7 linked regions of the Homo sapiens genome follow. The protein of the gene in region 1 interacts with the protein of each later gene in a pairwise test. Each region holds a gene or a part of one and is shown on either strand. Other genes may lie near its edges. The genes, in order: MIPOL1, CDC37, KIF9, FAM90A1, BYSL, EIF4E2 and NTAQ1.

What was found.
Region 2: the proteins of MIPOL1 (region 1) and CDC37 interact in binary tests that used the Homo sapiens proteins (3 or more experiments, as listed by UniProt).
Region 3: the proteins of MIPOL1 (region 1) and KIF9 interact in binary tests that used the Homo sapiens proteins (3 or more experiments, as listed by UniProt).
Region 4: the proteins of MIPOL1 (region 1) and FAM90A1 interact in binary tests that used the Homo sapiens proteins (3 or more experiments, as listed by UniProt).
Region 5: the proteins of MIPOL1 (region 1) and BYSL interact in binary tests that used the Homo sapiens proteins (3 or more experiments, as listed by UniProt).
Region 6: the proteins of MIPOL1 (region 1) and EIF4E2 interact in binary tests that used the Homo sapiens proteins (3 or more experiments, as listed by UniProt).
Region 7: the proteins of MIPOL1 (region 1) and NTAQ1 interact in binary tests that used the Homo sapiens proteins (3 or more experiments, as listed by UniProt).

What each region holds. Positions count from the first base shown.
Region 1 is NC_000014.9:37,267,437-37,270,936, reverse strand, and holds part of MIPOL1 (mirror-image polydactyly gene 1 protein), read right to left. Parts: intron 2,280-3,500; coding exon 2,144-2,279; intron 518-2,143; coding exon 412-517; intron 1-411.
Region 2 is NC_000019.10:10,393,543-10,397,042, reverse strand, and holds part of CDC37 (hsp90 co-chaperone Cdc37), read left to right. Parts: intron 1-839; coding exon 840-1,115; intron 1,116-1,499; coding exon 1,500-1,608; intron 1,609-1,699; coding exon 1,700-1,815; intron 1,816-1,899; coding exon 1,900-2,022; intron 2,023-3,500. UniProt on the Homo sapiens protein: Co-chaperone that binds to numerous kinases and promotes their interaction with the Hsp90 complex, resulting in stabilization and promotion of their activity. Inhibits HSP90AA1 ATPase activity.
Region 3 is NC_000003.12:47,272,800-47,276,299, forward strand, and holds part of KIF9 (kinesin-like protein KIF9), read right to left. Parts: intron 2,692-3,500; coding exon 2,526-2,691; coding exon of another isoform or gene 2,509-2,525; exon of another isoform or gene 2,429-2,508; intron 860-2,428; coding exon 753-859; intron 1-752. UniProt on the Homo sapiens protein: Essential for normal male fertility and for progressive motility of spermatozoa.
Region 4 is NC_000012.12:8,220,760-8,224,618, forward strand, and holds the end of FAM90A1 (protein FAM90A1), read right to left. Parts: intron 3,457-3,859; coding exon 3,257-3,456; intron 2,799-3,256; coding exon 2,690-2,798; intron 2,026-2,689; coding exon 1,063-2,025; 3' UTR 501-1,062; downstream 1-500.
Region 5 is NC_000006.12:41,927,999-41,931,498, reverse strand, and holds part of BYSL (bystin), read right to left. Parts: intron 1,368-3,500; coding exon 1,229-1,367; intron 865-1,228; coding exon 731-864; intron 104-730; coding exon 1-103. UniProt on the Homo sapiens protein: Required for processing of 20S pre-rRNA precursor and biogenesis of 40S ribosomal subunits. May be required for trophinin-dependent regulation of cell adhesion during implantation of human embryos.
Region 6 is NC_000002.12:232,560,689-232,564,188, reverse strand, and holds part of EIF4E2 (eukaryotic translation initiation factor 4E type 2), read right to left. Parts: intron 1-3,500. UniProt on the Homo sapiens protein: Recognizes and binds the 7-methylguanosine-containing mRNA cap during an early step in the initiation. Acts as a repressor of translation initiation.
Region 7 is NC_000008.11:123,423,274-123,426,773, reverse strand, and holds part of NTAQ1 (protein N-terminal glutamine amidohydrolase), read right to left. Parts: intron 1-3,500. UniProt on the Homo sapiens protein: Mediates the side-chain deamidation of N-terminal glutamine residues to glutamate, an important step in N-end rule pathway of protein degradation.

The sequences.
Region 1 (3,500 bases):
TGAATATGTGACTATCTTCATACAAAGGAGAAGTATTTCCTCTCAACGAGCTAAAACAATAAGTGGTATTTGAACTGCTGGTTGAAAGGTAGAGGCACTGGTAATCATTATTTCCCCTTGTTTGTTCAGCCCCTTCCAACAAAACAAACAACCTTTTTGTGATTGGATTGACATGGTGTTAACAATGCATTTAATGCCCAAATCAGTATGAATACAGGTAAAGCTCTCACTAATACCAGTACCAGGATGTTAAAGCCACCTATTTTCTAAGCAGCCAAAAAAAAAAAAAAAAAAAGGAGAGCTTCCCCTCCTTTGGCAAATAAGCCAGTATGCTAGTATTCACCAAGATACATCATATAATAACCTTGTGTGTGATTCTTCAAGCCATGTGTTAATACTCCTCTACTATACCTGCTGTCTTTTCAGCAATTTTAGCTTCTGTTTCTTTCTCTTGGAGTTCCAGCTTAAACTTTAGTTTTCTCTGTTCTTTATCTTCTTTAGCCAATTTCTGCTGAAGCTAAAGCACATTGAAAAAAATCATGGATTCTTATTTGACAAATGTCTTGCAAAAATATAATTAATTTCAAAGTTTTTGGTTTTTTCTTAATTCTTATATTATATTTAACTTCCTAGATAGATAACTCCAGAAAAAAATTTAAAATTTAAGTTATTTATAAAGTAATAATTACCTGTAGTTATACAGAAATTGTAAAAACATCCCAATATACACTTAATTTATGTGTATATGTGCATGAACAGGCAAATTAAATTCAGAGGACCAACATTATTCTTAAAAATAACTACTGCAGTTCAGATGTGGTTGCTCACGCCTGTAATCCCAGCCCTTTGGGAGGCCGAGGTGGGCAGATCACCTGAGGTCAGGAGTTTGAGACCAGCCTGGCCAACATGATGAAACCCCGTCTCTACTAAAAATACAAAAAATTAGCTAGGTGTGGTGGCGGGCACCTGTAATCCCAGCTACTCGAGAGGCTGAGGCAGGAGAATTGCTTGAACCCAGGAGGCGGAGATTGCAGTGGGCTGAGATCGCGCCATTGAACTCCAGCCTGGGCAACAAGAGTGAAACTCCATCTCAAAAAAAATAATAATAATAATGACTACTGCAAAAGCAGTCTCATTCATCCTTTTTTCTTAATGCAAAATATTTGGAAGGGATTTGCCTAATAAAATAACAGATAGCACTGCTTTACAGTTTATCTTAGTAAATCCAATATTCTGAAACAAAATTAAGACAATAATCTTAATATCTGATACAAATCTCCCTTTGAGAATACTACCCCATCATATTCCATTTAAATTGACACTGACACCTGACTCATAAGTGGCATGTAATAAATAACTGCTAAATGAAAGTACAGAAAACATCTCATACAGAATCCCTCCACATGTTTTTTTAATTCCTCCCTAGGTTTTTGTCATTTTAGTTGTTTTCCTCCAAACATGATCAACATTCCTAACATCATGCTTCAGTTTGATTAGGTTACACAACTAGAATATTAAAATCAGAGCAGTATGTAGAGGTTAAAAAAAAAAGAAGACACAGAAAATGCACATTATTTAATAAAATTATTTAATGATCACATGACTATAACTAGAATAAGAGTCAGAACAGAAGATAAAACATAACGTGACAAATTGGACTGGACAAAATGCAGCAGTATAAGATTAACACAAGGTAAATGACAATATTGCCAAGCCTTGCTACTGAAATGTTTAATTACATGTATTATTGAGGTCAAATATAGGGCATGGATACTAATAAAGAAAAAAAAATTAAGATAGTAACATGAAACCAGTGCATTCTATCTCCCATTCTCTATAATACTGAAGCAGAGTTTTACTAAAACTTGAATCTTTTTTTTTAAAGATATGTATACAAGGAACCAGGGGCTTATGAAAAAGGAAGTGCTAATGTGGACCAGCAAGGTATGAAATCAAAAAAATGCTTTCATTTTCAACCCCTTAACTCAACCATACCCTGATGGCAAGGTATGGCAAAAACATAAAGCTACTGTTAAATGATTAAAGTGCAAAATAAAACTGAATTATGATGGGCAACAAAGGAAATTTAGAAGATCAACAGCTAAACCCATACTATACAATTATCAGACTTTCCATATTATACCTTTTTATTGCTTGTTCTGAGAATATCCAATTCTTTTAGAAGAAATGCTATTGTCTTCTCTTTATCTGAGTCTGAAGTAACTTGACAAGGAGTCATACATTCATAATGCATATCATTATGTCTATGTTCCATAACGCTGTAATAAAGAAACTGATTAACATTTCAGAGTAAGATAAACTAATTTTTTGACATTTTGTATGCTACTTGAGAACAGTATCAACTTGTAAGCAAACACCATAAAGGAAGGGAAAGGAAAAGAGATGGGCTGTTTTTTTGAAGGCCTTATATTAAATTTGTAAGCACAGGTAAATTTTGGAGTCACTAAGAAGAAATTTAGTGACGGCTGGGACAGTCAGTGCAGCTCTATTTACCACGTACATCTCCTGTTGTAATTATGCTAGATATCTCATAATCTGACTTTAGCCCAATCTCTACTATTTACTTTACCCATGTGGTTATAAAATGTTTATCCCTACTTCATTCTTCTGTGCTTCTACTCCTCAAAAGGGACTCCAACCTACACCTTAGTAAGAATCTGAAAAAGGGATGGGAACATATCAATACATCTATTTCATTATATGTTACTATCTATTAACATATCTACTGAATAATTTGAAAGTAGAATAAAAGTTCCTATGCAAAAATCTGTTAAAAATAGTATGCTGCAAAATATTATTTTGTCTAGACTGAAAATATATTAGTCACTGAAACTTCTTTTTAAATCTAATAATATTTTTCTAGCACATGACTAATTATCAAAGTTCCTTAATCTCATGGGTAGAAGTATCAGGTATCACAAATTCAAATCCTTTCATGAGCTAGGTAGGCAAGGTTACTGGGTAAAAGCTGAGAAAGTAAAATAATGAGGAATGCAAATGGTAGAGAACAAGGCCCTTTTAAAAGCATCAAATTCATTTAAATGAAAAATAGCGCTAACCCAAACCAAAATGCATGTTTGGGCTTACCTTGTCCTGGAGCTGCCAGTTTTTTACTTTCATGAATGATATGTCATGTATATCAATTTAACAGTTATTTCCAAATACATAAAGAAAGGTCACAGAAAATAATATTGAATAAAATAGAATTAAACCTGTCTTTCTTCAGATGCACTTTGTGCTTTTTCACTTAGTTAACTAGACATATTATATCCATACCATGGAAACAGTAGAAAACCCTGGTAGATTCGCCAAGTTCTAATAAGTTTAGAATTAGCCAACACCAAAAAGAAAGAAGGAAAGAGGAAGAAAGGGAAGAAGGGAGGGAGAAAAAGTTCTTCCAATTCTAACTTTCTCTTTTTTTTTTTTTCTTCAGACAATCTTGCTCTGTTGCCTAGGCTGGAGTACAGTGGCACAATCTC
Region 2 (3,500 bases), on another chromosome or scaffold:
GAAGTTGCCATCATCAGGAAGGTGGTTGGGGAAGGGGTCCTCGCTAAGGCAACATGGAGCCCAGATGGCACGGGTGCCATGGAGTCAGCTGTGGGGGGCTCTGAAGGAAAAGCATTCCAAGTAGTTGGAACAGCCAGTGCGAAGGCCTTGAGGTTCAAGAAAAAAGTGGGCTCCGCAGAGTGCAGTAGCTCCCGCCTGTAGTCCCAGCACTTTGGGAGGCCGAGAGGGAAGGATCGCTTGAACCCAGGACTTCAAGACCAGCCTGGGCAACATGGCAAACCCCATCTTTACTGAAAATACAAAAATTAGCTGGGCGTGCTGGTGCACACCTGTAGTCCCAGCTACTTGGGAGACTGAGGTGGGAGGATCGCCTGAGCCCAGGGAGGTCGAGGCTGCAGTATGTCATCATTGGGCCACTGCACTCTGACCTGGACGACAGAGTGAGACCCTGTTTTTTGTTTTGTTTTGTTTTGTTTTCTTAAACAAAAAAAATGGCCTCAAGAAAAGGTGAGAAAAGTGAGGGGCTGGTGTAGCTGGAAGGAAGAGTTACCAGGGGAGGTGCCGAGGCAGATTGTGTAGGGCCCATGTAGGCTGTGGTGACAACTTGGGTTCTGCTGTGAGATGGGAGCCGCCAGGGTTCTGAGCAGAGGACGGAGGGACCTGACCCCACTTGGGTGTGCGCTGGCACCTGTGGGCGCAGGGGCGGAAGCTGGGAGACCAGGGCACGGGAGGTGGACGCGTACTTTTTCCTGGGGCCATCTCCGGTGCAGGGATTGGGTATGGGGCGGGGGTAAGGGACAGACGACTCCCCAGAGTTGATAGGCCGTCCCTGCCCGCAGGCCCGGGTGGAACGCATGGAGCAGTTCCAGAAGGAGAAGGAGGAACTGGACAGGGGCTGCCGCGAGTGCAAGCGCAAGGTGGCCGAGTGCCAGAGGAAACTGAAGGAGCTGGAGGTGGCCGAGGGCGGCAAGGCAGAGCTGGAGCGCCTGCAGGCCGAGGCACAGCAGCTGCGCAAGGAGGAGCGGAGCTGGGAGCAGAAGCTGGAGGAGATGCGCAAGAAGGAGAAGAGCATGCCCTGGAACGTGGACACGCTCAGCAAAGACGGCTTCAGCAAGGTGTGCGGGGCGGGCGGGGCGGGCAGTGCGCATGCGCAGCCAGAGAGCCTGCAACCAGGACGCATGCGCACCCAATGCCTGGTCAGGGGAGGACCCCGGTGGTGTAGTTGAAGAGTGTGGTGGGGGGCGGGGAGCTGAGGGATGGACGGGGGCCACGTGGGAGGGGGGACAGGCTTGGGGGGCCGGGCGGATGAAACACCCCACCGGTCCCCTCCTCTGATCTGCCCCAAGGCCCATGCCCACGCTCCCGCCACCTTGATGCTCATGGCTTCGTCACCACCTCCGCCGTGGATGGGATGGGCGCTGCGACCACGGCCCGCCCGGCCGCGCTCGAGGCGCTCCGCAGCCTTGCCCCAGCCCACTCCCCCTCTCACCCTACCACAGAGCATGGTAAATACCAAGCCCGAGAAGACGGAGGAGGACTCAGAGGAGGTGAGGGAGCAGAAACACAAGACCTTCGTGGAAAAATACGAGAAACAGATCAAGCACTTTGGTGAGTGGGGCTTGTGGGTTATGGGGGGCAAGGTCGAGGCAGGCCCTTTGCCTCCAGGGCCCTCCAGCACCTTGCCAGCATCTTCCCACAGGCATGCTTCGCCGCTGGGATGACAGCCAAAAGTACCTGTCAGACAACGTCCACCTGGTGTGCGAGGAGACAGCCAATTACCTGGTCATTTGGTGCATTGACCTAGAGGTGGAGGAGGTGAGTGGAGCTTTCCCCGGGACTGTGAAAAGGCGCTGCCATGAGGCCGCCACTTGGTGACGCTGTGCCTGTTCTTCCTGGCAGAAATGTGCACTCATGGAGCAGGTGGCCCACCAGACAATCGTCATGCAATTTATCCTGGAGCTGGCCAAGAGCCTAAAGGTGGACCCCCGGGCCTGCTTCCGGCAGTTCTTCACTAAGATTAAGGTAGGGTCCCTGAGCTGCCAGGTGGCTGGAGGCCCCCTCCCCAGGGAACCAGCCCACAATGCTCTAGGTAAGGCCGACTCCTCTCCACTGGGACTCAAGCCCCTCCAGTCACCGCATCCTAGATCAGGAGAGGGTGGGGCCAGGGAGGAGGAGAGAAGTGGGCAGATTCTGCCAGACTTTAAAAGTGGAGGCCGGGCGCAGTGGCTCACGCCTGTAATCCCAGCACTTTGGGAGGCTGAGGTGGGCAGATCACCTGAGGTTGGAAGTTTGAGACCAGCCTAACATGGAGAAACCTCATCTCTACTGAAAATACAAAATTAGCCGGGCATGGTGGTGTGTGCCTGTAATCCCAGCTACTCGGGGGGCTGAGGCAGGAGAATCGCTTGAACCTGGGAGGCAGAGGTTGCTGTGAGCCGAGATCGTGCCATTGCACTTCAGCCTAGGCAACAAGAGCGAAATTCCATCTCAAAAATAAATAAATAAATAAATTAATTAATTAAATAAAAGTGGAGGTCAGGCCAGGCTTGGTGACTGAGTACTATAGTCCCAACTATTTGGGAGGCTGAGGCAGGAGGATCACTTGAGCTCAGGAGTTTGAGCTGTGGTTTGCCACTGCACTGCAGCCTGGGTGACAGAGCAAAACTGCATTACAAAAAAATGTGGGAGCAGTAGGATGTGCTGAAGGTACCCAGGTGAATATGTGGGTAAAGGACAAAGGTGAGGGTGCCTCTAGGGTTTTGGGTTTTAGTTCATTTTTGAGACAGAGTCTTGCTCTGTCACCAAGGCTGGAATGCAGTGGCGTGATCTCAGCTCACTGCAACCCCTGCCTCCCGGGTTCAAGCAATTCTAGTGCTTCAGCCTCCCAAGTAGCTGGGATTACAGGTGCCTGCCAGCCTCAGGGTTTTTTTGTTGTTGTTGTTTTGTTTTTTTTGAGATGGAGTCTCACTCTGTTGCCCAGGCTGGAGTGCAGTAGCACGATCTCGGCTCACTGCAACCTCCGCCTCCTGGGTTCAAGCGATCCTCCAGCCTCAACCTCCTGAGTAGCTGGGACTACAGGCATGTGCCACCATGCCCGGTTAATTTTTTGTATTTTAGTAGAGACGGGGTTTCACCGTGTTAGCCAGGATGTTTTCGAACTCCTGACCTCGTGATCCGCCCGCCTCGGCCTCCCAAAGTGCTGGGATTACAGGCGTGAGCCACCGCGCCCGGCCTAGCCTCTAGGATTTTTAACCTGCGTACCTGGAGGAACAGGGCTATCCTTACCGAGATTAGGGAGACCAAGGACAAGGCAGGCTGGGAGGTGGCCATGTTGAGTTAGAGGTGCCCATGCAGGGACACTGAGGACATGAGTGTCTCAGATCTGCAGTAGAGCAGGGCTCCCAAGCAGGTGGTCTTTGGCAAATGCCAGATGAGGTCCCCGGCGGGGGAGCCCAGGCCTTGGGGAGCCCTTCATGTAGGTCAGGAATAGACTTGGGGAA
Region 3 (3,500 bases), on another chromosome or scaffold:
AGATACTGAAGCTTTGACAGTGGGATATTAAGGGTATTGCTCCAAAAACAGGAGCATGGATGGTTCACATACTAGAGGAATGTATACACTTCTTATAGGACAGGGCTGCAAAAAATCCTGTCCTATAACACTTCTTATAGGACAGGGCTGTAAAGCTGCCTCTTGGCAGCTTTTGCCTCCTACCTCCGACCAGAGGGTCCTTACAGAACCCAGGCTAGTGGGGCCCAAAGGAAGGCCCTTCTGTCTTATCTTCAGTTATGCTATTGAGACCCCCCGGGCTGACACAGTCCTGAAAGCTCAAGTCATGCCCTCCTTCTTGCTTTTGATCTTTCAGGGGCTGTGGTGGTGAAAAAAGCCAGAGTAGGCCAGTAAGGAAGTTCTGCAAGGGTCTATATGCCCCTCATTAAAACCAGGAAAGAGAATGATTAGGACCTCCAAATCCTTAATTACAGGATCACAGACCACTGGAGCAGCAAGAGGCTGATTAGCATGCCTGACTCCCTCCTTCCCAAATGAGGAAACAGGCTCAGTGTGGGTATGGCTCAGAGTCTGACACCCAACCTCCTGGTTTCCTGAGGCCCCTGACTCTACTGACTCCAGAGCCCTGTGTATGTTGTCTCCAGTACCAGTATCCACTGCAACTCCTTTGAGGCCTGGTCCCCACTGTCTCTAGTAGCTGGCCCAGGGTCAGTAACATCTATGGCAGAGAGAGGGAACCTGTGTGGCATCCCACCCTTGGGCCCACTCTCTACCTGCTGCAGGGCACGAGGGAGGATCCCCCGGTGCTTGTAATTCTCAGTTGCCCCCATCATGGTGTATGTCTTGCCAGCTCCCGTCTGCCCATAACACATGATGGTGCCTGCAAACATTTCAAAACACGGTGACATCCAGGAAAATAGCTCCAAGGATAACTCTCCCCTCTCCCAGCATGCCTGGTGCCAGCCAGGGCCCTTTGCATGAAGATGGCCAGTGGGGGCAGCCAAGAACATCAGGAATTCCACCATGGAAGAGGATGGGTGGGCAGGGGAACAGGGACAAAAGTGGTCAAAACAAGGACATCTGCCCTGAATCTGTGGTCCCCACAATGCTCTGCTGTTCCCTCCACCAAGAGATGATCCGGCCCTAGGGCTTCTGAGAAGGACAGGGAATCTCAGGGTACAGAGGAACTGGAACTTTTCCTAAAAAGATGAGGAGGGAGATAGGAGCATTAGACTCCAGCCCTTCTCTAGCACAGCTATGAACTGCCAGGGTCTCAGGGTTGGCAGGAGGCATCAACTTCCCCACAGAGGCAAAGAGGGGCTTTCAAAATCTCCAGGAAGAGATGGAGTGGAAAGGGCATTTTCTGTCAAGGGTGAGAATTCTTTGTAGACTACAAATTCCTGCAGGATGAAACAGGGCTCCTAGTTGGTTCCATGTCACTTCCAGAAATGTACCACCATGATCAGGCCCTGATCTGGTCCACTGCCCACCCTGGGAAGACTTTCATTGCACTTCTCAACATCCTTTAGGTCTACCATCACCACCAGGCTCCGGGACACAAACCATGCAGTCACCCTGAGCTCCGGCTCCTATCTGTTCTTCCCCTTAGCATGGGCAGCCTGAGCCAGACCCCATCCCACAGGCTGCCCATGGGCATTTACATGGCAGATCTGCCCAGGCAATGCTGGGCTGTGAAAATTTTTTGCCTTTGTCACACAGACACTCTAGTTCTTGGGACTGGTGGCAGGTTTTACACAAGCGATCCTGATTCAGCATCTGAGTTGGAGCCAGAAATGGTGTCTATTAACCCAACACAAATGAACAGGAAGGAGTCACTTCAGCTGCAAATCAGAGCCCATTTGTGGTTCCACAGCACCAGTGCTCAAGACTATTCATCTCCCTGGGCCTTAGTTCCTCTGTCTTCACCTCCTCAAGGTCACAATCAGAGCATCATGAAAACCAAAAGAGAACCTCCTTAAGTCAGTGGGGACCACACCTACGTATCACATTCAGGATAAATTACAGCATCTACACTCAATGCACTTTTAAATATAAAACCTAAACTTGCAAAACAGGGAACATCCTAGTCAGCAGCCACCAGATGGCAAAGTCTACAAACTGTGACATATTCTTTTATACAATCCTATACTAGAATATCAACTGTACATTGATTGTGTTGGTAGAATACATGAAAATAGCTCCTAGCAGGAAGCTGAGAGACAAATGTTTGGACTCCATCAAATTTGTCATAAAGACGTATCTTCAAAACTAATACTTGAGAGATTTGAAACAGGATAATTGAACCCCTGTGACCTATAGAGAGCCATAGTCTTTTAATTTTCCTATGAAGGTAGAATCCCAGGACATTGGATCAAGCCATGCCCACAATGTCAACAAGCAAACAGTAAGTTTTGCAACGTAAGAACATGGAGACAGACAAACATACAAATGATAGTGAGTGAGCTTTTATTTTATTCACCATAAAATATTTGCATCTCTTACTCCTCAGGTTCTTACATAAGACAACATTTAATTAATTAAGTTACCATTATAGCCATCGAGGGCCTGAGAAACCACATCCTTTGCAACTGTCTCATAAACCAAGTCCTGGGAGGCATCGTGAAGAACTCCATCCAACTTAAACGACCAGTCTGTCTGTTGGTTATTGACAACTCCTCTCCGAATGTCTTTTTTTAAGTGAATATCAATGCTCTAGGAAAAAAGAGTGAGAAAGAAAAAAATGTTATTTGTTCAAAAATGGGTATAAAAAAAATCACTGATAGCTGAGGCCTAATCTGGAGGGAACAGAGGAAATGAACTGTAGGATGAATGGGGACTCCCACGTAGGGGCTGATATTCCAGATGAATTCTTTGGGATGGGAGAAGAGAGTTCCTGCAGGGAGATGGAAAGATCAGGAGAGTGGAGCACTTTCTAGTTTTAGCACCTCTAACCCTAGTTCACACGGTGCTGTCTTTGTTTCCCCACCTATGATATGAGGTCAAATTTATCATGTTCTTATTAAACAAGTTTTAGATAGATTCCATAAGCATAGGGAGGCCTTGAATTATGCCAGAGGGAATAGTGAGCCTGGTAACAGAGGCCTGGGCTCCAGCCTCATTGCTCTGGTTGCTGGCAGTGAGGCCTCCCTCAGCTCTGCATTATGGTGAACATCTACTTCCACACACACGCTATGAGCCAAAGTGAGTGATGATGAAATGAAAGCCACAGAGAAGGCTATGGACTTCTCAGACATAGGAATTAAGAGTAAATTGAGGGTGTCATCAGCAGATTTTTAGATGCATGCCCCTTCATAGTAAGCCATTGTAGTAGCAGCTGGCTTAGGGACATACTGGGTAAGGTCAGTGGTAGATTCCAATCTTCTTGATGAGAACTTCTGATGTAAAGACTCTTGCTGAAATCTTACACTGACTGCCCTAATGCAGGAGCTATACCTGGCTACAGAGAGAAAAATTAAGATGAAGAAAGACAGACTTGGCCGGGCATGGTGGCTCACGCCTGT
Region 4 (3,859 bases), on another chromosome or scaffold:
CTCTGAGCTAGGAGAAAAGCTGCCCTGTGGCGGGAGGCGAGACATGTTGGCAGTAGTGCTGCCTTGTTATTCTTTACTCCACTGAGATATTTGGGTGGAGAGAAACATAAATCTGGCCTACGTGCACGTCCAGGCATAGTACCTTCCCTTGAACTTAATTATGATATAGATTCTTTTGCTCACATGTTTTTTTTGTTGACCTTCTCCTTCTTATCACCCTGCTCTCCTACTACATTCCTTTTTGCTGAAGTAATGAAAATCATAATAAAAAAAACTGAGGGAACTCAGAGGCCGGTGCCGGTGCAGGTCCTTGGTGTGCTGAGTGCCGGTCCCCTGGACCCAGTGTTGTTTCCCTATACTTTGTCTCTGTGTCTTATTTCTTTTCTCCGTCTCTCATCCCACCCGACTAGAAACACCCACAGGTGTGGAGGGGCAGGCCACCCCTTCACTTGGAAAATCAGTTAAACACAAACACGGAATGAAAGTCAAAAGACAATATGTCATCTTTTTGAGAATTTTATTCACTTCAAAACAAATTCAACACACCTATTTACAAAGGGATTCCAGAGCCCACTTTTCGAGGCTGAGGAAAGACCCCGAGAGCGCTTTGCACAGCGCGCTTCCCAGCGTCCGAAACACTGCTCTCAGGGCGGGGCACAGCGGAAGGGCTGCACCTCTCAGGGTTCCCTAACTTTTCCCTTATTCAGTCGTCTAGAGAGCAAATACACAGTAATTCCCCCGTTTCCTATTGACGTCCCAGCGGAAGTCTGACTCCTGCGCGTCATGCAGTTTCTGAGGCAACGAATCACTGGCACGGAAGCTTTTCCTGGCGCGTTTCCAGAGAACCATGCGAACTACAATGTCCCTCACCAGAATTCAACGTGGCAGAGTCCCTGCATCTGCTCCCTGCCTGGCCTGGGCTCCCACATCCACAGAAGGGCCACAGCCGGGGAGCTTCGGAGTCACCGCACAGAGTCTGCTCTCTGCTCTGTGCTCCTCAGTCCCACAGTCCCCTCCAAGTCACGGGAGCTGGAGGCCAAGGAGCCCCTGCCACCTGCAGTCTCACTCCAGGTCAGAATCGCTGTCCTCTGAGGAGGAGGGAACCTGAAGGTCCTCATAGAGGACGCTTGGTGGGACACGAACACAGGGACCCTCAGACTTCTCTGAGACATGAGGGCTCTGAGCGAGGAAGGCTCCCGGCTTCTCAGGAGAGTGAAATGAGGGGGCCGTCAGCAGGCTGGAGCTCCAGCGTCCGTTTTCCAGTCTCCGAAAGAGCACTCTGAGAGGCTGGGCCCCATCATGGCTGGCCGCTGGGTGATGGGACATGGTGCAGGCCTGGGCAGTAGGCAGGCAAGGTCTGCTGTGCGGAGGCTGCCGGTCGCCGCTAAGCACCTGGGCGGGTGTCCTCGTGCCTGTCTGGGGTGACGTACGTGGTCCAAGTTCGGTTGCGGCTGGCGGAGGTTGGAGATTCTCCGGGGCCCCCAGCTCACCTCCCTGGATGGCGCTTTCGGGGATCTGGAAGGGACCCAGTCTCGGTTTCTTGGGGAAGTTCAGGCAAGCCTGAATCGGAGCCGGGGCAGATCTCTTGGCTCCTGGCCCGAAGCTGAGATTGGAGCCTAGGCCCAAGCTGTGTGTGGCGGCTGGTGGGCAGGGCTGTGAGGTCACCGCAGGACGTTTGTCTTGTGCCTGGGGGCTGACGGCCTGGAGCAGGCCGTGGGTTTTGGAGGCAGCCTGGGGAACTTCTCGACAGCCACCCGCAGGGCTGCTGTGTGTCGGCTTCACCACGAGGAGAGGCTCGGGGCCCTGGTGCCTGACTGCAGTCTGAGGGATGTCGGCCGCAGCCCCTGTCTGTCTTTCCTTTGGTCCAAGACTTGAGGAGGAGCTCAGACTGGCTTTTCTGAGGGGAGACAGTGAAGCTAAGACGGAGCCCCTGTCAGACATTTCGGTAGCTGAGCGATCAGAGAGGACAGGGTCCACACGCGGCCTCTTACTGGTTGTGTGGACCGGCATTGGCCCGCTTGCAACCTGAAAGAGAGGAAACAACACAGGTTAGAAGTTCCTCAGCATGGAGCCAACATGAAAATCAACCACATCCAAAGACAAGGTGCACACGCCATGAAATTCTTAGTACACTATCGACAGGCGGTCCTTGGAAGTAGGGACAGACCCTCCACCTGAGTGCTGATCAGGACAAGACACATGAAAGATGCGCTCTCGAGCTATGTGTAGCTGATCTAAGCACACCATTGTTCAAAAGATTGCGTCTTAGGCATTAGCTGGATCAAAGCGCCTCCACTCAGCCTTCCATGAAGTGGAACCGACTGATGCCCTTCCGAAGGCAGGTTGGTGGCTCAAGGGTACTCAGGACGTCTTCTCTGAACATATGCATGTTCCTGGGTTTAGCCTTCTCCACGTTTGGGGCCTCTGAGGGACTAATTTCCTCATGCCGCTAGGAACGTGTTGTTGGCAGGCTTGCCATAATTGGACAGAAAGAAAGCAACAGGAAATACGGCATCTTCAGATGCCTTCGCCTGGAATCAAATTGACCTGGAAGGATCGTGGAGTGTCTGACCCCAAGAAGGCAAGAAAGAGGGGTTCCCCGATTCCCTCCCGCAGACGGGAAGCTGAAAGGAAATCAACCAGGGTGACCTAGAGGAGAAAAAGACCAGGGGCCCAGGGTGACCCTCACCCTCAGATAATCAGAAGATTCCGTGGATCCTTTTTGATTTGGCAGCGGCTTCTCTGGAGGTTTCCTGGAAAATATGTGGAGGAGAGCCTTCCTCTGCGGGTCTTGTGGCCTGCAGAACAGAAAAAGGTCAGGCCGTCCTCCCTGGTTTTCCCCAGGAGACGGGGAGAACCCTGTCTGGGGCCCAGTCCCATTCCGTGTTTTGTGATACAGAAATGGACATCTGGTGCCCTTTCCGCCTCTGCACCTTCCCTCACGTGCCAACCTTCCCATCCTCCAGGTGGCCCTCTAGGCTTCCCAACTAAGGACTGTGATTTGGATTCCATCACTTTTCCCCCTGTCGTGGGGAACCTGCACGAAGCGCCCCCGCCCCTCCCCGTCCCTGAATCTCCCAGAGCCAAAGGAGCTCTTGGGTGTGGAACTCCGGAAGACACAGAGCTCCGGTCTGTTTCTCTGCAGCGTTCCTTCCCTGGCCCGGAGACGGAAAGGCACACGGTGTGCAGGTGCAGAGACACCATGTCCTTAGGAGGCAGTACCCTAAGAGTGGTGAAAACCACTCCCACTGCTCACCTTGGTCTCTCTTCCTTCTCTCCCTTATCCTTGTTCAAGGGCCCAGGGTTCGCTTCAACCTGGGGCTTCCATGGTTTCAGGTTTTCCTTCCCTTCCTTTTCCCCAAAGTTCGGTGGAACCAGGGCTGCCTTCCAGCACTTCATGGGGCACCTGGTACTTCTGGCCGTGTGGCCAAAGGCCTCACAGTTTTTGCACTTGAGCTGTGGGTGGAAAGGAAGTGATGTCAGTGAGTGAGCTGAAGCCACAGGCACCGATCCCACGTCAACATTGAGACGGATTGTGAATTCAGAGCTGAATAAGGATTCCAAAGAGGGGACACCGGCATGGGGGCCGTTAAGTGCTGGGAGAGTTCGGATACGATGTTCCCTCCCAAAGCCCATGTGACGGAGGAACTCTAAAAGGCAGGACTCAAGGTCCTAAGGGGCACGATGGTGAACCCGATGTCAACAACACAGCCAAACGTGGCTACACAGGACTCTAAGTAGAAAGGGAGGTTGCCCCCAAGAGTCTCTCAAGGGGCCTATCGGGCCGGGGAGGAGGTCCCAAGCCACGCCCACCTTGGATGGGAAAAGCAACCTGGGTGGTGGTGACAGAACTCTTTGG
Region 5 (3,500 bases), on another chromosome or scaffold:
GTTGAGTCGTTTGTATTCAGCAACGTCATCTCGTACTCGAGGGAGCAGGACAAGGTTGTAGAAGCGCTGGGCCATGCGTTCCTTCAGGTTAGAGGCAAAAATCCTAGTGGGAGTTAAGCGGGGGAAGTTTCCAACTCACACGACAGTCTGGACCCGGCCCATTAAATATCACCATGGATAGTGCATACAAGAGGTTTTAAAGTAAAATATGGGACCTTTCTTTCAGTGGGGGATGTGTGGGAGCTGTGTGCATGCAACACCCATCAGCTTAGAGAGAGAATAGGAGGGGCAATGAGATATACCCAAATGAGGAGCACCGTTTGTCTGTGGGAGAGCCAGAGCTCGTGCAAACTGATGGCTACTCAGCATCAGTTGAGTAGCCCTGAGCATGCCTGGGCAGTCACAGACTTCTGAGGGTCCTGCTACAGGGTTGTATCCCAGTGGCTATAAAAGCCTCTCCCCTAGAAATTCATCACAGAGGGTTGTATCCCAGTAGCTATAAAAGCCTCTCCCCTAGAAATTCATCACGGAGGGTTCCTAACTGGCTAACTGGGTCTTGGCCCCAAAAAATGACACAGGAAAAGCTAGAAAAATGATGCTATAAAGTAGCACAGAGAGGGCCCTGGGGCAAAGCTCAAATGCCCTGGGGCCAGAGGCAAGGAAAGCCTGTCCGTCCCAAACTCAGCCTGCACCTATAAACCCAAGGCCCCCGAACCCCCAGCTACTCTACCTGGTGGCCTGGTACATGGCAGCTGCAGTCCAGGCCTCCGGCTCTGTGACGTAGAGGATTTGCTCCCAGTTGGAGAGTGCAGGGATGATCTTAAATGCCTTGGGCAGTTTTCCACTGCGGTACTTAGATAATACCTAGGGATGAGGGAGGTAAAACAATCATCGTCATCCACATATGGCAAGCTTGCTGTGGGCTAGGAACTTGTCTGGGTGCTTTTAATATATTAACTCATTGCATCCCCACAATAACCTATAAGGAGGTGCCATTATTATGCTCATTTTACAGATGACCAGTGAGAGTTCCAGTAACCGACCCAAGGATGCCAAGTCATTTACAGGCAGAGCAGGAATCTGAACCCACACACTCTGCCTCTTAGGTCTGTTTTCTACTCCCATGACTTCTTTAGTATGTGATGCAGGCAAAAGGCAAAAAAGCCTGTGGCAGGAGCCCACAGCCCCCAAAGGGGTCTTCCACCATGGCTCCCCTCTCAGCTCTTACCTCCCGGACCCCCCTGTACACTTCTAGGACCCGGGGGTCCAGCTGGGGCATAGGGAAGCCCGACACCTCTGACATGACTGTCTCAACCTCTGTCTGCTTCTCAGTCAGCTTCTCCATGATGATGTCAGCCAGGGTGCGCCTAAGAGGGGAAGTGCCAAGAGGAGGGGAGAGAGGGGGCAAGGAGCACTGTGGTCACTGTCCAGGAAGCTCCAGACTCCCCACAGTCCCCTGTGAGCACCGCCATACTGCGATCCTGCTGGGATATGCAGCTTAGAGTTCTCTCTCTGTGCCCATTCATCCACCACAGACAGAATCACTGCAGGGTGCAAAGGAACTGAAAGTCATTCCATTTAGGACAAAGCTAGCAGTTGTACGGAGGTTATTATGAACCTCAACTCTGAAGTCAGTCTGCCCAGGTTCAAATCCTGGCTCACCCACTCCCTGGTATGATCTTGGGCATGTTACTTTACCTCTCTATGCCTCTGTTTCCTCATTTGTAAAATAGGGATAATAACGGTACCCACCTTAAAAGATTAATGGAAGGATTAAATAAGTTAATGTCTGTTCATTACTTGGAATGGTCAGTACACAGTAAGCGTTATCTATGGAAATATTTCTAAGACTGATTATATTCTTTTCAGCCTCCTTAAACAGTATTGTTGGGTGTATCAAACATAATCTTATCTTAATGATTCAGAATTACCATCGCCTTGAGCTGTCATATAATACTAGCATCTTCAGAGGCTGCTGAAGTGTATTTATTTATTTTTTTTGAGAGAGAGTCTACCTCTGTTGCCCAGGTTGGCATGCAGTGGCACCATCATGGCTCACTGCAGCCTCTATCTCTCTGGCTCAAGCGATCTTCCCGCCTCAGTCTCTCGAGTAGCTGGGACCACAGGAACATAGTACAAGGCCCAGCTAGTTTTTTATTCTTCTGTAGAGATGGGGTCTCCCCATGTTGCCCAGGCTGGTCTCACACTCCTGGGCTCCTGCCTTGGCGTCCCAAAGTGCTAAGATTACAGGTCTGGGCCACCATGCCCAGACTGAAATGTATTTAAAGCTGCTTCTCAGTTGGGCGCAGTGGCTCACGCTTGTAATCCCAGTACTTTGGGAGGCTGAGGGAGGTGGATCACGTGAGGTCAGGAGTTTGAGACCAGCCTGGCCAACATGGTGAAACCCTGTCTCTACTAATAAAACAAAAATTAGCCAGGCGTGGTGGTACGTGCCTGTAATCCCAGCTACTCGAGAGGCTGAGGTTGCAGTGAGCTGAGATCATGCCACTGCCCTCCAGCGTGGGTGACAGAGTGAGATCCTGTCACAAAACAAAACAAAAAACAAACTGCTCCTCTTTTCTGAGGTCCTACTCAATGCCAGGCACTGAGTTTGGGACTTTTCAGTCCTAGAGTCAGCGCAACACTTATAGGACACGGAAACTTATGCAGACATGGGAACTGGGCCTCAGGTTAATAACTCACCCAAGGCCTCACAGCTGTCAGGTGGGGGTAAGAGTCAAACTCAGGTTTTTGGAAGTCTTGAGTTAAGGTGCTTTATAGTACCTTATAATGTGCCCCCAAACTAAATGGCCTCTGATTGTTGAATTCATGTGGATCTAGGCTTGCTTTCTGAAGATGCCAGCTATCATTTCTTACGACTGCCAGGAGTTCTGATTACTTCAAGGAGCTTGTCTACTCTATTTACTACAAGCTGGAAAAGCATTCTGCTAAATTGGTCAGCATTATCAGTGAAGTAGGAGTTATGAGGTGCTGAGTGAGAACCTGAGAGGCTCTCTGGGGGGACAAGCCCAAGTACATACTTTATGACATATATTTCAACTGTTAGGCATCAATCTGGGAGAGGGGCTCATTTTCATTTCTTCATTCTGCATTTTCAAATAAGCTGCCACAGAATTTATCAGCCTCCCTGTCCTTTTATAGTATGATTAGCAATGAGATGCATTAGCCCAAAACAGCCTAAAGTATCAGGGACACCATTATGTTAATATCACAGGGTCAGAATGAACTGGTTGAGGACCCTTATCCTAGACTCCACTCCCAAGGGCCAAAATTTATGGGCTCAGGAGTTTGACCACAGGCAGTCTAAATGCCTGCATGTTTTGGAGCTAGCATTTATTATAGATGGGAATAAATTAGTGGTCCTGACTAGGGGCAGTCTTGCCTCCCAGAGGACATTTGGCAATGTCTGATGTCATTTTTGGTTTTCACAACTGGGGGAAGGTTGCTACTGGAGTCTAGAAGTAGAGATCAGAGATATC
Region 6 (3,500 bases), on another chromosome or scaffold:
TCCCAAGGTTGAGATTTAGTTAAGAACATAAGCATGGAAGACACTATACTACAGGCTGTCCTTTTCAGAGGACTCATTTTCATGTGTGGTGTTGTGAGGGAAGACATATTAGAGGAAAAACATACCATCTAGTTTGACAAAATAAAAAATGTAACATTCGCAATTCAAGAATAAAATCTTTGGTGAGAAATGCAAGCCTCAGCCAGGAGCTTTAGTTGGTGAAACCATGTTAATACGCACTCTCCCACTCAAGCTGCAGGGTAGTCATCACATGCAGTAAGAGGACCAGGTTTTTGCACAATGGAAACTCTTTAGCCTTGAGGTATGTAAGTGTCACACAGCCTCAGCCTGAATGCATTTTTTAGAACCAAATCACTTACCGATGAAAGATTGTTTAACTGGCAAATATAGCATTTGCTGAATGAAATACCTCTTAGACCTGTTTAGTTAGTAAGCATAAGTGATAGAATCAACCACATGTAAATACCTCTTAGACCTGTTTAGTTACTAAGCGTAAGTGATAGAATCAACCACATGTACCACACATACCACTCTACATCATGGTGCTGTTGCTAAGTCCAGGCCAATCCAAAATCATACAGGACTTAGCTTCTCATAGCTAGGGTTTAAGGCCCTCTTCTTAGCTAGAAAAATTATGTTTCTCCTTGCCGCTCCTTCACAATCCCGTGAGAAAACTAGATTTATATTTTTCCATCAAGTATATGCTTATTTGTATTCATCACAGTAGTCCTGTTTTTCTCATTAGTGTCACCCCCCCTCCCCTTAAAAAAAAAGAAAAAAAAAAGAGACAGGGTCTACGCAGCAGTATGATCATAGCTCATCACAGCCTCTAACTCCTGGTGTCAAGGGATCCTCCCATCTCAGCCTCCCAAGTAGCTGGGACTACAGGTTCACTAGTGTCTTGATAGGAAAGATTATTTCCTTATTCACAGAGGATACGTAGTAAGTACTGGCCAGTGAAGAGGCACACTTTAGGAGGAAAGAGAAAACACGGAACATTCCAATGAGAAATAGCTGGTATCTGCTAAACTGCTGAGCAGGCTCTAAATCAACATACAGCAAGATACCACAACTGTGGAGCTGACAATGGGTATCGAGTAGACAAAGATTCAGGTCATACTTCTAGATATGGGGAGCACCTAAGGAGAAATCAGCCTTACACTGCGTGAAATGGCTGTCCCTTTAGTTCCTCTCTAGCACAAGCACACGTGATGCATCTTACATGGTAAAAAGAAGTCAGAACTAACGCCATCTATAGGGCTTCAAGGCAGTGCTTTATACTCAGCAACTGCTAAGCTTAGCTGCATGTAGTGACTCGGAATAGTAAATGGTCATATGAATACAATCGGCAATAATGTAAACCTTTATCCACCCTAACATAGTTGAATAAAACCACATATACCCACTAGAACCAAGTACACCCACTAGTGGCTCATTGTGAATAAGGAACTGAAAGGGGCTTGGTGAGGACAAAGTATGTCAACCATCTCCAGTTCCCCAGTCAATAATCGCTTTAACAGTTTGGTCTCCCCAATCTTACAACTACACTGCACAATCTTTTTTTTGTTTGTTTTTTTGAGATGGAGTTTCGCTCTTTTTGTCCAGGCTGGAGTGCAATGGTGCAGCCTGCCTCAGCTCACTGCAACCTCTGCCTTCTGGGTTCAAGTGATTCTCCTGCCTCAGCCTCCCGAGTAGCTGGGACTACAGGCACACACCACCACGCCTGGCTAATTTTTGTATTTTTAGTAGATGGGGTTTCACCATTCACCATGTTAGCCAGGCTGGTCTCGAACTCCTGACCTCAGGTGATCCACCTGCCTTGGCCTTCCAAAGTGTTGTGATTACAGGCGTGAGCCACCGCGCCCAGCCCCACTGCACAATCTTATATGCAAACCATAAGAGAGATGAAGTTAAACAGCTCGAGACTATCATTCATTCATTCATTCATCATTTGAGATGGGGTCTTGCTCTGTTACCCAGGCTGGAGTGCAGCAGTGTGATCATGGCTCACTGCAGCCTCGACTTCCCAGGCTCAAGCAATCCTCCTGCCTCAGCCTCCTGAGTAGCTGGGACCACAAGTGGGCACCACCATGCCCAGCTATTTTTTTACTTTTTTTGTAGAGATGAAGTCTAACACTGTTGCCAGGCTGGTCTTGAAGTCCTGGATTCAAGTGATCCTCCCTCCTTGGCCTCCCTGAGTGCTGGGACTACAGGCATTAGCTACTGTGCCTGGCCTGAGAAATATTATTAAACTTTAAAAGATTTGACAGTTCTAATTGAAACCAAAAAAAAAAATAAGCATTCACAGACTCAGAATATGAGGTGCCGAAAGGACCTCAGAAATCATGTCAGCAACTTGTTTTATAGTTGAGAAAGGTTTCAGGACTGAGTTGCTCTAACCAAGAGGGTCAAGCATCAGAATAGGTGAGCTCTGATTACCAAGTCTAGTGCTCTTTCCATTTCAAGATGATGCCTTCCTAGTCACTCTGACTTCAAGAACTTTTAAATGTTGTTAATGATTAGGCTAAGAATCACTGGGAAACACTGCTTTCAATTTGATAAAAGGATTCATAATGTAATTATTTATCTGTGATGCATTTAATATTGTGAGCCATTTCCTAGTGACCTGAATTACACAACAGACTTTATTTCTATTTTTCAGGTCCAGACCTACAGAGTCAAAATGACAGACTTTAAATACTGTCACACATCCAGTGAGCATGGATGAAGCCTTAACCCAAGATAGTCCTGATGATAAACCACTCCTTAACATATACACTGAAACAAAAGAAAAACCCTCCTCGTACAATTTGGGTAAATTCTTATATGCTTTTTTTTTTCACAAGAGGGAAATAAAAATGCAAGAAGTATGCATAATTACTCCAAAAAAATCTTTTTTTGAGATAAGATCTCACTATGTTGCCCAGGCTGGTTTTGAACTCCTGGCTTCAAGCGATCCTCCCACCTTGGCCTCCCGAAGTGCTGGGATTACAGGCATGAGCTACCAGGCCTGGCCAAATTCTTTAAAATCAATCTTAAACCCATCTCTTCCAAGGCAGTATTCCCCAAACTGGAATCAATTCCTTCTTTCCTCCAAACTCCAAGAGCACTCTAAATGCCTTTCCCATAGTATCACTTACTGTCTTCCCTGTATTAGAAATTCCTGGGCACATCTTATTTCCCCAAGGACAGGATCTGTGCCTTCATTCCTTTTAGAAGCCTACTAGAGCCTTGAATTCATTCAACAAGCATTTATTGAACCAAATATGAACCAGTGCACAAGGTAGTTTATTATTACAAAACCCCTAAGTTTGCTGATTCTAAGATAGCACTGGCAAACTAAACAAGATCTTTGCTTTAGGCTGAAATTTTATCAGCTCAGCATAGTAATGATGTTGATTTCATATTAAGCAGATTATAACTGAGTTGTAAGAGTATTCTAGATACAAGTATTAGATATGATTTGCAATATTTTCTCC
Region 7 (3,500 bases), on another chromosome or scaffold:
TGGCCAGGCTGGTCTCAAACTCTTGATCTCAAGTGATCCACCTACCTCAGCCTCCCAAAGTGCTGGGATTACAGAGTGAGCCACCGTGCCCAGCCTATGCTTATTTTTAGAGACAGGGTCTCACTCCATAGCCCAGGCTGAATGAAGTGCAGTGGCTCAACCACAGCTCACTGCAGCCTCAAACTCCCAGCCTCAGCCTCCTGAGTAGCTGGGACCACAGATGCACATCACCACACCCAACTAATTTTAAAAATTATTTTTGTGTGTGTGGAGACAAGGTCTTGCCATGTTGCTCAGGCTGGTCTTGAACTGCTGAGCTCAAGCAATCTTCCCACCTCAATCTTCCTAAGTACTGGGATTACAGGTATGAGCCACTGTGCCTGGCCTTCTCAAGAGGCCTGATTTTTAGAAAGTTCTTTCTCATACTGAACTGAAATCAATCTTCCCATACCTTTGCCCCAGATGAATCTCTCTTCTACGTGACAGGTCTTTGGCTATCTGAAGCAGTAGTCAGAACCCACCTAAGTAAAGTGATGCCCAGTAGTACATCAAACAGAGCAGTAACTGAGCTGCACCTCCATGCACAGGAAACCAGTCACTTCGGGCAGTACTCACAGCTCAGCTGTTGGGTTCCTATCTTTTTCTAGTAAGATACACGCACCTTTGCTCAAAATGAGGTACACTAACACTCTGTTCACAGAATGTGGCTCAGTCTGTCAAAGCCTAGTTTCTTTTTTGCAGGGGGGAGCGGGGACGGAGTCTCGCTCTGTCACCCAGGCTGGAGTGCAGTGACACAATCTCAGCTCACTACAACCTCCACCTCCTGGATTCAAGCGATTCTCCTGCCTCAGCCTCCCAAGTAGCTGGGACTACAGATGCATGCCACCACTTCTGGCTAATTTTTGTATTTGTAGTAGAGATGGGGTTTCACATGTTGGCCATCACATGTTGGCCATGGCTGGTCTTGAACTCCTGACCTCAGGTGATCCACCTGCCTCGGCCTCCCAAAATACTGGGATTACAGGTGTGAGCCACCACGCCCGGCCCAAAGCCTAATTTCATCCACGCCATGCTACCTAAAAATGAAGCAAGGCATGAACAGCCCTGAGGATGGTCACCATCTTACAGAAGTAGACACTCTTTCAGTTCATCAATCTTTGCCTTGCCTGTCTCAAATGCTCTATAAAACTAGGCTTAAAATACGGAAGTTGGACATGTTTTTCTCCCATGGTTTTCCTTTTCTCTAAAATAACTAGGAAACTACAAGGGAAAAGTGATGGTTGTGGTTAAAAAAAAAAAAAAGTGGGGGGGTGGGAAGATTGCTACTGCTACTGACTACTTCATATGATATGTACTATAGAGTAATAAAAATTTACTGACTGGGCCGGGCATGGTGGCTTACGTCTGTAATCCCAGCACTTTGGGAGGCTGAGGCACGTGGATCACCTGAGGTCAGGAGTTTGAGACCAGTCTGGCCAATATGGTGAAACTCTGTCTCTACTAAAAATACAAAAATTAGCTGGGCGTGGTGGCTGATGCCTGTAATCCCAGCTACTCGGGAGGCTGAGGCAGGAGAATCGCTTGAAACCAGGAGGCGGAGGTTGCAGTGAGCCAAGATTGTGTCACTGCACTCCAGCCTGGGCGACAGAGAGAGACAACCTCTAAAAAAAAAAATTTTATTGACTGTTTCAACATGACATATGGTATATGTCATATTACGTCACAATAAAATTTCCTTAATCTAAATGTTCTAAGGCCAGGTTTGAAGAAGACAATTATCTCTCTGGCTTATACAAGTTTTTCGGGAGTTTACCGCAAATACCTTCAAGAGCTTATAATGTACAAAATACTGTGCTAAGTGCTTGGAGGATATGATGATAAATTAGAGCTTACAGACCATGAGCAGAGACATACAAATCCATAACTGGCAAGCATCATAGAAGGCCATAAAAGATGCATGCAGAAAGGAAGAGGGTGTCATTAATTCGGAGGGATATGGGAAGAGGTATAGGTTGTAGTTTCTCTTTGTTCATTCCCCTCTAAGGGTGGGCTTAGAGTTAATACAAAGGGGCCAGGCGAGGTGGTTCATGCCTGTAATCCAGGCACTTTGGGAGGCCAAGGCAGGCGGATCACCTGAGGTCAGAAGTTTAAGACCTTGGATCACCTGAGGTTGGGAGTTCAAGACCAGCCTGGCCAACATGACGAAACCCTATTAAAAATACAAAAATTAATGGCCAGGCGCAGCAGCTCACGCCTGTAATCCCAGCACTCTGGGAGGCCGAAGCGGGTGGATCATGAGGTCAGGCGTTCAAGACCAGCCTGGCCAACATAGTGAAACCCCGTCTCTACTAAAAATACAAAAAATTAGATGGGTGTGGTGGCAGGCACCTGTAATCCCAGCTACTCAGGAGGCTGAGGCAGGAGAATTGCTTGAACCTGGGAGGCGGCGGTTGCAGCAAGCTGAGATCGTGCTACTGCACTCCAGCCCAGGCAACAGTGCAAGACTTCGTCTTAAAAAAAAAAAAATACAAAAATTAGCTAGGCGTGGTGGCACAAACCTGTAATCCCAGCTACTTGGGAGGCTGAGGCATGAGAATCACTTGAGCCCGGGAGGCACAGGTTGCAGTGAGCCAAGATCGCACCACTGCACTCCAGCCTGGGTGACAGAGTGAGACTTCATCTCAAAAAAAAAAAAAAAAAACGCATAAAAATAAAAACACAAAATCAGCCGGGCGTAGGAGCATGCACCTATAATCCCAGTTACTCAGGAGGCTGAGGCACAAGACTCACTTGAACCCGAGAGGCAGAGGTTGTAATAAGCCAAGATTGCACGACTGCTCCTCCAGCCTGGGTGACAGAGCAAGACTCCATCTAAAAATTAAAAATAATAATAATAATAATAAAAACTACAAAGAGTTCATGAATCCACAGATACCACAAGCACCACTGGTAAGCTGAATACATAATGTGGCTTGAACATACACTGTTATTTTTGAAATATATGTAAATGTTACACAGAAAAAAATGTAAACTTCGTAAAAGTCACTGACTTTTTAGTCCCTTTTAGTCAGCAATTGTTTTTCAAGAGCATAACGAATATCATGTAGGAGAATCCCATGAAAGTTTCAATGTTAAAAAAAAGGGGGAGATGATCTTATACTCGGAAATACAAGGAGTCACAGCTGAAACAAAAATACCTGTAGGTGGGGTGCAGTAGCTCACAACTGTAATCCCAATGCCTCGGCTGAGGTGGGAGGATAACTTGAGCTCAGGAGTTTGAAACCAGCCTAGGCAATGTAGCAAGACCCTCCGGAAAGAAAAAGAAAGAAAGAAAGAAAAAGAGAAACAGAAGAGAAGGAAAAGGAGGGAAAGGAAGGAAAAGGAGGGAAAGGGAGGAAAAGGAGGGAAAGGAAGGAAAGGAGGGAAAGGAAGGAAAAGAAAGACAAAGAAAGAAAAAAGAAGAGAAGAGAAAACAAAAGAAGAGAAGGAAGGAAAGAGAG